Regions from separate parts of the Homo sapiens genome. Here all the other regions are reported to be linked to region 3. The links are microRNA targets in miRTarBase. Many come from high-throughput screens and were not tested one by one. Region 3 holds a microRNA gene; each other region holds the end of a gene's coding sequence.
What was found. The annotated mature microRNA hsa-miR-7978 reads UCUGGUGUAUAGCGUUGCUCA and lies in region 3 at 1,030-1,050, shown strand. An mRNA with a match to its seed (bases 2 to 7 or 8) in the 3' UTR can be bound and repressed. Matches are read on the target gene's strand: a 7mer-m8 pairs with bases 2 to 8, a 7mer-A1 pairs with bases 2 to 7 and ends in A, and an 8mer does both.

Region 1: miRTarBase lists IGLON5 as a target of hsa-miR-7978. Seed matches in the 3' UTR shown: 7mer-m8 at 1,559-1,565.
Region 2: miRTarBase lists ZNF419 as a target of hsa-miR-7978. Seed matches in the 3' UTR shown: 8mer at 475-482 and 8mer at 628-635.
Region 4: miRTarBase lists C7orf33 as a target of hsa-miR-7978. Seed matches in the 3' UTR shown: 7mer-m8 at 867-873.

The regions. Positions count from the first base shown.
Region 1 is chr19:51,328,186-51,331,416 of GRCh38, reverse strand. IGLON5 (IgLON family member 5) reads right to left here. Exons shown (of 8, transcript NM_001101372.3): 8 at 526-2,746. The coding sequence ends at 2,658. Among named protein-coding and RNA genes, the nearest start is that of VSIG10L-AS1, 10 kb to the left of the region's middle. RefSeq lists an enhancer at 2,237-3,159.
Region 2 is chr19:57,493,656-57,496,655 of GRCh38, forward strand. ZNF419 (zinc finger protein 419) reads left to right here. Exons shown (of 5, transcript NM_024691.4): 5 at 1-2,443. The coding sequence ends at 435. Among named protein-coding and RNA genes, the nearest start is that of ZNF773, 4.8 kb to the right of the region's middle.
Region 3 is chr4:21,462,557-21,465,787 of GRCh38, reverse strand. It overlaps MIR7978 (microRNA 7978), which reads left to right and starts at 1,030; the gene lies at 1,030-1,088. All of the region lies in intron 1 of KCNIP4 (potassium voltage-gated channel interacting protein 4), which reads left to right.
Region 4 is chr7:148,614,675-148,617,905 of GRCh38, forward strand. It overlaps C7orf33 (chromosome 7 open reading frame 33), which reads left to right. Exons shown (of 3, transcript NM_145304.4): 3 at 653-1,186. The coding sequence ends at 727. Among named protein-coding and RNA genes, the nearest start is that of C7orf33, 26 kb to the left of the region's middle.

The DNA of each region.
Region 1 (3,231 bases), not on the chromosome of region 3:
TTCACGTAGCAAGATGGTTGCTGCAGCTCCAGTCATCACATCTTCACACAACTGTATCCAAAGATAAAAGGAAGGGGGCAGAACTTCCTCCCTATACATCTTCCCCACCCTCTACCTCCCTCTATCACTGCCTTCTTCCCTCTCATGGGGTGGGAGGGAAGCTTTCCTGGAAACCTACAAGCAAATTTCCATTTATGTCTCTTTGGCCCAAACTGGCCACATAGCTGCAAAGGAGGCTAGGAAACCAGATATCTAGCCTGTATCATAACACGTGGATCTGCCAGCGAAGAAGAAAGGGGAACCAAACAACTCAAATGTGGGCAACCAGCATCTGTCTCAGGGAAGGAAAGCATGTGAGAGAATTTCTGGTTAATGATTGGGGGTAGAAAAGGCCATTGGAAAATAGAACCCCTGGATCCTTTTGGAAAGGTGAGGGTTGGGGTTCTGGGCCTTCTATGTCTCTTCTGTATCTATTATGGTTTTCATTCTCTTTTTTATTACTAGAGATAGAAAATCCAATGCAAATTGGTTTAAATATACAGGGGACTTTATTGCTTATATAAGTGAAAATGGGCATCAGTTAAGTTTTGATCCAGCTGCTCAAATGATATATAATCATGGACTCAGTTTCTCTAAGGTTTCCACTCTGCCCTTCACAGTGTTCCTATCCTTCTCAGGCTCCATATGCTGTCCTCCCCACCATTGCTATCCCCACAGAGCCAAGATCTCTCCATGTGATGGAGAAAAGCAACCCTACAGATGTTGACTTCACATCACGGAGCCACAATATCCAGCAGAAAAGCATCTCTTCTTGGGAATCCATTCACTTTCTCATTAGCCTTACTGGGTCATGTGCCCATCTCTGAGCCAATCACGGTGGGAAATGGGCTATGCTGGGTGTCTTCGGCCAATCACAGGGCATCTCTGTAATGAGTCCATTCCAAGTCTACCAGTGAGAAAGTAGGCGGTAGGAATGATGCTGGAGAGGCACCACCAATTGACTGCTACCCTTTGCCCTTCATTAACTCTAATCCTTAATGACATTGACACCTGCAGGCAGACTTTGGAAAAAGGCGTTTATTGGTGTGGTGGTCTCAACACTCCCCATGAATTGGAACACATGGCCCCCAGGGCCCCCCACCCCCTCCCTAGCATCCCTCCCCTGTCCCACCCCATCCCCTGGACCCTGGGAATGGAAGACAATGTGGGATGGGGCCCATGCCCCCGTCTGAGGTACAGTCACTGCGCCTTGCCCTCTCCTTTTCTCCACCAGACTCTGGGTGGTGTGGTTTGGGGTGGGTGTTTATATAGAGGGTCTCCTGGGAGTCGGAGTTGGTGACATGGCATCTTTGTCTGGGCTCAGGATGTCTGTGTGATGCCTCTCTGTCCCCCACTTTGTGTGGTGTGGTGTACCAGGGTGGAGTGTTCCTACAGTCAGAGCTGAGGCTGCGGCCTCTCAGCGTCCCTTCCTGACACCAGATGCCTACCCAGGGGGAAATACAGCTAGTCACCAGCTACCGGACAGCTGGAGCCAGGGGGCTATTGCTGGTCACAGTCGCTGGTGTGTGTGTGTGTGTGTGTGTGTGTGTCTGTGTGTGTGTATGTGTGTGTGGTGCGTCTGAGTGTCTGTGAGGGCGGTCAGGTAGCCTTTGGGAGGTACAGTTGGTGGAGAGGCCAGGAAGTGATAGACCAGCAAGCTCACACCTGTGGGCCAGCTGCAAAGGCCCCAAGGGCAGCTGGCTGGTGCCGCAGGTGGGGAAATCAAGGCCAAGGGGAGTGGTGGCAAGGGTAGGGCAAAGCACTGAAACAGACAGGTGACTCCTGCCACCAGTCTGACAGTTGGATGGAAGCACCGATTGGCCCAGGAGGGGGCCAGAAAATCCAGGGTGTGGAGGGACAGGAAAAGTGGGAAGGTCTCAGGCCACTGAGCCAGCGATGGGGCCTCTGGCTACAGGAAGCTGGTGGTTGACAGCAGGGAAGCCCAGAGCCTAGATGGAGGTCCCCCACTTACTCACAAAGGCTGAATGACAGCTTGACAGGTGAGTGCGATGCCCCTCCCCACTCCCAACCTGCCAGGAGTTGCCCTTTCGACAGGGGGAGGGGTAGTGTGCGTGCATATATTGGGGAAGCAGGGAGCCTGGTAAGCCTCTCTTCACAGCTTCCACTGCAGAGCCTCATACCTACCTCCAGCCAGAGGTGAGAGGCAATAGGGTTGGGGACAGTGGACATGGGGGTTTTGGGGGCGGGAGGACGGCTGAGTCCCTTCCCCCAGCCCACCCCCCCACACACACACAAACAGAGACACAGACACCTACACATGCATGCAGGCTCACACTCACACACCCACACCCACACAAGCCAGTTGACAGCCTGAGCTAAGAGAGAGGGGTATGGGGTGGCGGGAGTGGGTCACAATCGGAAACGTGAACGGGTGGCGAGAATGGCTGTAGAAAGATGCATAATTTTGCGTTATCCCTCACAGTGATGGGTTCTCTGAAGATCTTTCTTCCTCTGCCTCCTCCTCTTCTCCTCTCTCTTCTTCCTTGGTGGCCGAGAGCTCTTCTGCCCCCACGAGACCCACGGCTCTTGCTCCCCCGTTTCTCTCACTCTTGGCCTGAGGCCCCCTGCAGGGGGAGGTGAGCTCCACTGGGTTGCGCCTACATTCTCCACCACAGCCAGCCCAGGGCGGAGAGGAGGGCCAGGAGCCCTGGGGGCCTCGGGGCTGAGTTCTCCAGGGATCCTGGGCCTGGGGGAAGAGAAGGGGTCATGGAGGGAGGCCTGAGAGTGGGGAACCCCATGTGTGTCTCTCCAGGGGCCCCATCTCTTCTGAGCCCACTCTTTAGCGTCCTTTCTGGATCTCTCATTGGGTGTGCCTGCTTTTCTGACTCTGTTTCTTTTTTTTTTTTTTTTTCTTTTTTTGAGACGGAGTCTCGCTCTGTCACCCAGGCGCAATCTCGGCTCACTGTAACCTCTGCCTCCCAGGTTCAAGCAATCCTCTTGCCTCAGCATCCTGAATAGCTAGGACCACAGGTGCCCATCACTACGCCTGGCTAATTTTTGTATTTTTTTTTTTTTTTGGTAGAGACATAGTTTCACCATGTTGGACAGGCTGGTGTCAAATTCCTGACTTCAGGTGATCAGCCCGCCTCGGCCTCCCAAAGTGCTGGGATTTACAGGCGTGAGCCACCACGCCCGGCCTCCAAAATTATTTTTTGTTTATGTATGTGTTTG
Region 2 (3,000 bases), not on the chromosome of region 3:
GGAGAAAGGCCTTACAAGTGCAGCGACTGTGGGAAATTTTTTACCCAATGCTCAAGCCTCATGCAACATCAAAAAGTTCACACTGGAGAAAAGCCTTTTAAGTGCAATGAATGTGGGAGATTCTTTAGAGAGAATTCCACCCTAGTTAGACATCAGAGGGTTCACACTGGAGCAAAGCCTTATGAGTGCAGGGAATGTGGGAAATTTTTTAGCCAAAGCTCAACCCTCATGCAACATCGAAAAGTTCACATTGGAGAAAAGCCTTTTAAGTGCAATGAATGTGGGAGATTGTTTAGAGAGAATTCCAGCCTTGTTAAACATCAGAGGGTTCACACTGGAGCAAAGCCTTATGAGTGCAGGGAATGTGGGAAGTTTTTTCGCCACAACTCCAGTCTTTTTAAACATCGAAGGATTCACACTGGAGAAATGCAGTGATTGTGTGAAATCCTTTAGCCAGCGTTTCAACCTCATTCAACACCAGAAAGTTCACAGTGGAAAAAATCTTGAAGGTAACAGATGGAAATCCGTTAGCCACACCTCCAGTCTCATTCAACACTGGACAGTTTACAATGTGGACAATGTAGTGAATATGGAAAAAGGTTTCAGCCAAAGGCCTAACCCTATTCAACACCAGAAAGTTTACACTGGAGAAAGGCCTTAGGGTGACAGGTTATGTACTGTCTCTGAATCAATATGACCTCACTTAAAACAGAAACTCTGAGGATGGCCTTTATGAGGGAGCTGGCAATTGAACATCATTCATCTAAATATGCACACTGGAGGCAAGATGAGAATTCCTGACAGATTGTCCTTCCTGAGAAGACAGCCCTCTGCCTTGGAGCTCCAGAGAGAGGGAGCCCTGTATTCTTGGCTGTACCCGTCGAATGGAGTTTTGATCTCGCTGAGTTTGGAGTTGGGGGAGGAAAGGAGTGGTCTTGGTTCAAATGTGACTCACTTTTGCTGTTCTTGTGAATGTTAGATCTTCTTTAATAAATATTTATTTCCCATACACCCTTATGACCATTTCCAGAGACTGAATTGTGTTTTTATAATTTTCACCCTTTTGGCTGTGTAACAGGTCTGCAAAGCTCCTCATTCAGTTATTCTGTAAGTTGATCCAAATGTTTCAAATTTTAAGAACTTGCCAAATTGTGTTCTAAATGGTTAGCATTTCATATTTCCTCCTGGAATATATTAGATTTTCCATTTCTTCACATTACTGACAGTTTATATGTGTAGAAGTCATAGGCCATTCATTTTAGCCATGTTACTAAGTGTGAAGTAGTATTTCATTGTAGTTCTTAATTTGTATTTTTCCGATGACTCAGTTTTGAGCATTTTTTAATGTGTTTACTTGTCACCCATATATCTTCTTTAGTCAAATGTATTTTTTGCCTGTTTTTTAAAACATTTGGTTGGTTACAAGTTCTTAATATTTCTGGAGACAAATTCCTTATTTGATATAAGCATTGTCAATATTTTCTCATGGTCCATGGCTTTTGTTTTCTTTTCTTTTTTAAAATTTAGAGATGAGGTCGTGCTATGTTGCACAGACTAGTCTCTAACTCCTGGCCTCAAGTGATCATCCTGCCTCAGCCTCCCAAAGTGCTGGGATTACAGGCATGAGCCACCATGCTTGGCCTTGTTTTCAGTTCTTAACAGTATCTTTCCTAGAGCAGATTGTCTTAATTTTATGGAGCCCAATTTATCCATTTGTTATTTTATTCATTGTGCATTTGGTGTTGCATCCTCTTACTATACCATATCTTTGCCTATAAATAAAAGCCTTGACTGAGTGCGGTGGCTCACGCCTGTAATCCCAACACTTTGGGAGGCCAAGGCGGGTGGATCACGAGGTCAGGAGATTGAGACCATCCTGGCTAACACAGTGAAACTCCCTCTCAACTAAAAATACAAAAAATTAGCTGGGCGTGGTGGCGGCTGCCTGTAGTTCCAGCTATCCTGGAGGCTGAGGCAGGAGAATGGTGTGAGCCCGGGAGGCGGAGCTTGCAGTGAGCCGAGATTGCGCCACTGCACTCCAGCCTGGGGCACAAAGCCAGACTCTGTCTCAAAAAAAAAAAAAAAAAAAAAAAAAAAAAAAAAAAAAAAAAAAAGCCTTATGTGAGTATGCTACTGTAATCTTATGAATCTTTTTAAATATCCAACTTCTGAAATATTTGTAGGTTTAACTACAAATAAATAATTCAATATATAGATAAATGTGTACATATTCCCTATCTTTACTGAGAGCCTAGCAAGCCATGGCATTCCAGTAGTTTTGAGCACATTTAATACCCAGTTATTGGTTTATATCATTTTTTAATAAAAGGAACCAGAACTCCTTAGAGAAGAGGCTGTTTTCAAGTTGTGGCAGAAAAGGTACAACATGATTTGAGGAAATACTGCATTGGAAAATAAATAAATGTTCACAGAATAATGTTGACATATTAGCTTTTTATTGCTATCCTGACAAATCACCACAAACTTATGGTTTAAACAACACAAATATAACAGAAGTCTCACTGGGTTAAAATCAAAGTGTTGGCATGATTATGTTCCTTTCTAGAGTCTCAGGGAGGATCTGTTTCTTGCTTATTTCAGTTGTTAGCATATTTAAGTTCTTCGTGGTTGTAGGACTGAGATTCCTTTTTCTTGATGGCATCAGCTGAGGGTCATTCCTAGGATATATAAGAACTTTTATGAAAAAGGAAGAAGTAATACCAATTGTATACAAACTTCCAAGAGGACAAAGGTTCAAAGAATTCTGGACTATATGAAAGTTAGCATTAACAGGACACTAAAGCAGGCAATGACATTAAACAAAACTATAGACCAATAATCACATGAATATAGACACAGAGCCTTAAGAAAATTTTAGCAAATTGAGGCACTCGTCCTTCAAATCACCCCCTTGGGTCTCTTCCAAGCATACTTGCCTTTCTTTCCTGTTCTAAAGCCTTTTTAAATAAACTTGCACTCATGCTAAAACAAAACAAAAAG
Region 3 (3,231 bases):
TGTTTTAAGCTACCACTCTTGGAGAGTGCCCACTATGTGTCAGGTACCTTATCTTAAATATTTAACCCTCACTACAATTCTGTGAAATAAATATTTTTCATGCCTGGTCTCCAAATTAAAAGACTGAGAAAGCTTGGAGAAGTTAGGCGAACAAGTCAATGTCCAATATCTAGTAAGTTTCAGAGTCATGTTTTATAGTCAGATATGTATGTATTCAGATATATCAACAAAATTAGCCAATGTAATGGGGTTATTGTAGGAGGTTGCAACTGGTGGTCTTAGGACACTGGGCATTGCCCTAGACATAATGAAGAGAGTTGAGTTTGTAGACTCAGTTATTGGGTACAACAATCCTTCTTGCCCACATCAGAAATTGATGGAGGTAAGGAAAGGAGCATGTAGAGAATCCTGTGGACAGAAAGCATTCATAATCCAGCATTGATCTGGAAAGTATATCTTATGTACCTGCTGAGCATGTCAAGTTCTTACTCTTAGCTGCTGTCAGTAGGATTGGCCATCAGATTCTGGATTTTATGTCATAGTAGAATCAAGTGTATGTTTACTATAAGTACTCTTAGGGCTTGTCTTACAGTAGGCATTCAACTCAGTGCTTATGAATGACTAAATAAATGGGTGTGTTCTTTCCTGAAATAGCAGAAAGCAGTAATGTTCTTCTTCTATTTATACTCAAAAAAGGCTATGTGCAAAGCAGGAGAGACAGCCTGGCAGTCTACACCTGTGCCAGTAATCCCCCAACAATCCTGTCAAGATTAATTTTCAGAGAGCTCTTACACAAGAATATTTGGTGACTTCATGTTCTACAGTGATCTATTGAATCAGAGGAATCAAAAATAGCCACTTTTTCCATGGTCGTAGAGGGGTGTTACTCATATTACTTTTATGAGAAATGAGTAAGTGAGATGGATGCATTGAAATATATTTATTAAAATTAAAAATAAATTCTGAACAACTAGTCAAGTATTTCTGCTGCTTTGGTATGGAACATTGTGTAAATGTCTGTCAGGTCTATCTGGTGTATAGCGTTGCTCAAGTCCTCTATTTCTTTGAACAACAGTATACACCAAATAGATGTGATAGACACCAACTAGGCGTGATAGAAAAAAACAGCAGAATATATACTCTTTTCAAGTACATATGGAACATTCCCCAGGATAGATTATATGCTAGGGCATAAAACAAGTCTGAATAAATTTTTAAAAAATTATACAAAGTATGGTCTCCAACCACAGTGGAATGAAATGAGAAATCAGTAACAGAAGGAAATTTAGAAATTCACAATTATGTGGAAATTAAGCAACACACTCTTGAGTAATCAATGGTCTGAAAAATGCCAGAAAGATTAGAAAATGCTATGAGAGAAATGAAAATGAAGATAAAACATACGAAAAATTATAGAATGTAGCTTACACAGTACTTACAGAGAAATTTATAACTACAAATGTCTATATAATAACATCTCAAGTCAATAATCTAACCTGACAACTTAAAAAACTATAAAAAGAAGAGCAAACTAAATGCAAAACAATCAGAAGGAAGAAAATAGTAAATATTAGAACAGAAATAAATAAAATAGGAAATAGAAAAACAAAAAATCAATCAATTCTAATTGGTTCTTTAAGAAAAAAATTAAAATTGACAAAATTTTAGCTAGACTGAAGAAGAAAGGAAAGAAGGTATAAGTTGATAAAATCAAAAATGGGAGTGGAGACATCACTACCAACCTTACAGAAATAAAAAAGGATCATATAGGAATGCTGTGAACATTTGTGTGCCAACAAATTAGGTAGCTTAGATGACATGACAAATTTCTAGAAAGACAACCAGAAACAACCACCATTGATTCAAAGTGAAATAGAAAATCTGAATAAACTTATTACAAGTAAAATGATTTAATTTCAAACGAAAACATTTCCCACAACTTAAAGCCCAATTCCAGATGGCTTTGCTGGTGAATTCGATTAAACATTTAAAGAAGAATTAGTAATAATTCTTTACAAACTCTTTCAAAAAAGAGAAGACAAAGGAATATTTCCAAACCCATTCTAGGAGCTAGCATTATCCTTATGCCAAAACCAGGTAAAAACAGCACAAGAAAAGAAAACTAGAGAGCAGTATCTCTTATAAATGTAGACACAAAATTTCTCAATAAAATACTAGCAAACACTGGCAATAAAAAGGAATAAAGTACGAATACATGCTACAACATTGTTGAACCTTGAAAAATATTATACTAAGTGAAAGAAACCAAACACAAAAGACCACATCTTTTATGATTCCATTTATATGAATGTCCAGAATACAGAAATCTATAGAGACAGAAACTAGATTAATGGTTGCCCAGGGATGAGGTATGAAGTTGGAGAGAAAAGAGAACTCAAACAACTCAATCACAAAAACACAAATAATCTGGTTTAAAAATAGGCGAAAGACCTGACTAGACATTTCTCAAAAAAAGACATTCAAATGACAAAGAGGTATATGAAAAAAATATTTAACATCACTAATCATCATGGAAATGCAAATCAAAACACAATGAGGTATTACCTTACTCCAGTTAGAATGACTTCTATCAAAAATACAAAAGATAACAAGTGTTGGGAAGGATGTGGAGAAAAGGGTACCCTTAAATACTGTTGGTGAGAATGTAAATTAGTTTAGCCATTATGAAAAACAATATGGAGATTTCTCAAAAAATTAAAACTGGGACTACCTTATGATCCAGCAATCCCACTGCTGGATATATATCCAAAGGAAATGAAATCAGTATGTCAAGGAGATGTCTCACTCTCATGTTTGTTGCAACACTATTCACAATAGTCAAGTTATGGAATCAACCTAAATGTTCATTAACATTTATGGATAAATAAAATGAATAAATAAATGGATAAATAAAATGAATAAATAAATGAATAAATAAAATGTGGCATATATATGGTATACAAACACACATAGACACACATACACACACACACACACACACACACACACACACACACACACAATGGAATACTATTTAGCCATAAAGAATAAAATCCTATATCATTTGTGACAATATAAATGAACCTGGAAGACATTATGTTAACTGAAATAAACCTAACACAGAAAGACAAATACTGCATAATCTCACTCATATGCAGAATCTAAAGTCGTTGATCTCACTGATGTAGAGAATTGAATAGTGGCTACCATGGGCTGGGAAGAGTAGTTGAT
Region 4 (3,231 bases), not on the chromosome of region 3:
CAGGAAGCTATGGCTTCGGTCCTACGTGAGCCCGTACAACCACTCAGCACATAAAGTTCCATGAAATTGGTGCCTCAAACCACAGTATCTATAAAGGAACTCCTAACTTAAAAAGTAATCCATCAATAGTAAGGATTTTTAAACTTCAGCCTAAAAATTTTAAATACTGTTAGTAGTAATAAAGCAATGAGATTTCTCTAAAATTATTGTTGCCTGTATCACTTTAAATCTTTGACATAAATGAAAAGTTGCATGGAAAATGCTAAAGTTCTAAGCAAATAGGTTGAGCATTAATAAATAGGAAGATGAAGTAAGTGAAATTGATTTTGTTAGGAACTGGTGGGAGCTGGTAGAGATAGCGATTTTTTTTAATACTTTTTAAAATTTTTATCTATTTACTTATTTTGAGACCAGGTTATAAGACTGGCTAATTTTTATATTTTTGGTAGAGAAGGGGTTTTGCCATGCTGCCCAGGCTGGTCTCAAACTCCTGGGCTCAAGCGATCCACCCACCTTGGCCTCTCAAAGTGCTGGGATTACAGGCATGAGCCACCATGCCAGGCTGAGACAGTGTTTTAAACTGTGCTATTGATGTTCTAGGGAAAAGGTAAATCATCCTGAGATAACAGAAGTCTTCGTAATCCACATGTAGGTACGTGGGCATGAAGTAAGAAAGCTCCAGAATTCTGTTGAGGCCACAAGGATTTCCAGAACTGACAGCAGTTAAGAATTTTGCAGAATCTAAGAGTCACATCTCTAAATTTGTGTAGATTGTGAAATCTCTTCTTGCAAGAAAAAAGAGAAATAGCTGAAGTTCTGGAAATAACAGTTGATGAAAACTTGGTAATCTGAAGTCTGAACTTTGAACACCAGCAGACAGGCTGAGAATTCTCTTTGATCATGAGCCCAAGTTCCACGTGTACCTGCAGGAATCTGTGTGGCATTTGTGCACTGGTGTGGGGCCCAGGAGAGGACCACGGAGTGACAAGCCACCAGGTTCTAAAGGGAGACGAAGATCCCCAGAGGACCTGGATAGAGATGTTTCCCTGACCATTGTCTGCTGTGTGCTCCCGATGATGAGACTCTAGAGTTTACAACTGAAACACACTGTCATTTATGATATTATTTGTAATATCTGGTATGTCTAAGTAAAACATGCATTCAGTAAAACTCGCGATGAAACTTATCTCATTGTGTGGATTTCATTCTTCTCAATTCTTTTATGTTTTCTGGGGTTTTTTCTAGATGGAGTTTCACTCTTGTCGCCCAGGCTGGAGTGCAATGGTGCGATCTCGGCTCCCTGCAACCTCTGCCTCCCGGGTTCAAGCGATTCTCCTGCCTCAGCCTCCCGAGTAGCTGAGATTACAGGTGCCTGCCACCACGTCCAGCTAATTTTTGTATTTTTAGTGGAGATGGGGTTTCACTATGTTGGCCAGGCTGGTCTCGAACTCCTGACCTCAAATCATTTGGAAACCACCATATTGAGTGTGCAGGAGGGGAAATCCTACCAGTTTGAAATGCAGTTTGGCCGCTTCTTTACTCTGTGATAATATTGTGTTTGTCAGCAAGGGTTCCCTAGCAAGGTACCACAGAGCGGGGTTGGGGGACGGGCTTAACCAACAGAGGCACATATCCTCACAGTTCTGAAGGATAGAAATCAGAGACCAGGGCATGGGCAGAGCCTTCTGAGGCTCTTTGACTTGTATAAGGCCATTCTCCCTGCGTCCTCACATGGTCGTCCCTCTGTGCATGTCTGTGTCCTAATCTCTTCTTCATATGAAGACACCAGTCACACTGGATTAGGGTCTACTCAAATGACCTCATGTTAACTTAATTACCTTTTTAAAGGCCCTATCTCCAAATACAGTTGCATTCTGAGGTTCTAGGGGTCAGGACTTCAGTATATGAATTTTGGGGAGACAATTCAACTGATAACAATTGTATTAGTCTGTTCTCACACTGCTACAAAGAAATCCCCAAGACTGGGTAATTTATAAAGGAAAGAGGTTTAATTGACTCTCACAGTTCCGCATGGCTGGGGAGGCCTCAGGAAGCTTACAGTCGTGGCGGAAGGGGAAGCAGGGACCTTCTTCACAAGGCGACAGGAGAGAGAGGGCATGCAAAAACGAGGAAGTGCCACACTTTAAAACTGTCAGCGGTCATGAGAACTCACTATCATGAGAACAGCATGGGGGAATCGCCCCCATGATCCAATCTCCACCCTCCCTCAACACACGGGAATTACAGATCCCTCCCTCAACACACGGGAATTACAGATCCCTCCCTCAACACACGGGAATTACAGATCCCTCCCTCAACACACGGGAATTACAGATCCCTCCCTCAGCACACGGGAATTACAGATCCCTCCCGCAGCACACGGGAATTACAGATCCCTCCCTCAGCACACGGGAATTACAGATCCCTCCCTCAGCACACGGGAATTACAGATCCCTCCCTCAGCACATGGGAATTACAGATCCCTCCCTCAGCACATGGGAATTACAGATCCCTCCCTCAACATGTGGGGATTACAATTAGAGGTGAGATTTGGGTGGGGACAGAGAGCCAAACCATTATCAACTGTGAAAACATTATGTAATAATAATAACAACAACTTCCAGAGATAGCTGTGTTGCAGGCACTGTCTTAAGTTCTTACATGTATCATTTCATTAATCTTCTAGGACAACAGTCCTAAAAGAGAGGTCCTATTTTACAGATGAGGAGCCCAAAAACGAGCTTAGGGTCACACACAGCTAGAATGTGGGACTTGAACCCAGGCAAGCTCAAGGCTCTTGGTCAATCCATGGAAGGAGAGAAAGGAAAAAGAAGGGAGGAGGGAGGAAGAAGGGAAGGATACCAGGGACCACAGTAGTGAAAGGCTGGGTTTCCTGCTACTACAGTGGGTAGGGCTCAAACAACCAAATAGAAAAATTTTTTAAAAATTCTAACCACACTCACCAACCCTAAATTAGTAAACTATTTTTTATGCATGTCCTTATGTCCTAGAAAATGGAGTCAAACTGGTTTTTGTTGTGATAGTAGTTTTTGAGACAGAGTCTCGCTCTGTCGCCCTGCTGGAGTGCAATGGCTCTATCTCAGCTCACTACAACCTCCGCCTCCCAGGCTCAAGTGATTCTTCTGCCTCAGCCTCCAGGGTAGCTGGGATTACAGGCGCACACCAGCACGCCCAGCTAAGTTTTGTGTTTTTAGTAGAGACAGGGTTTCG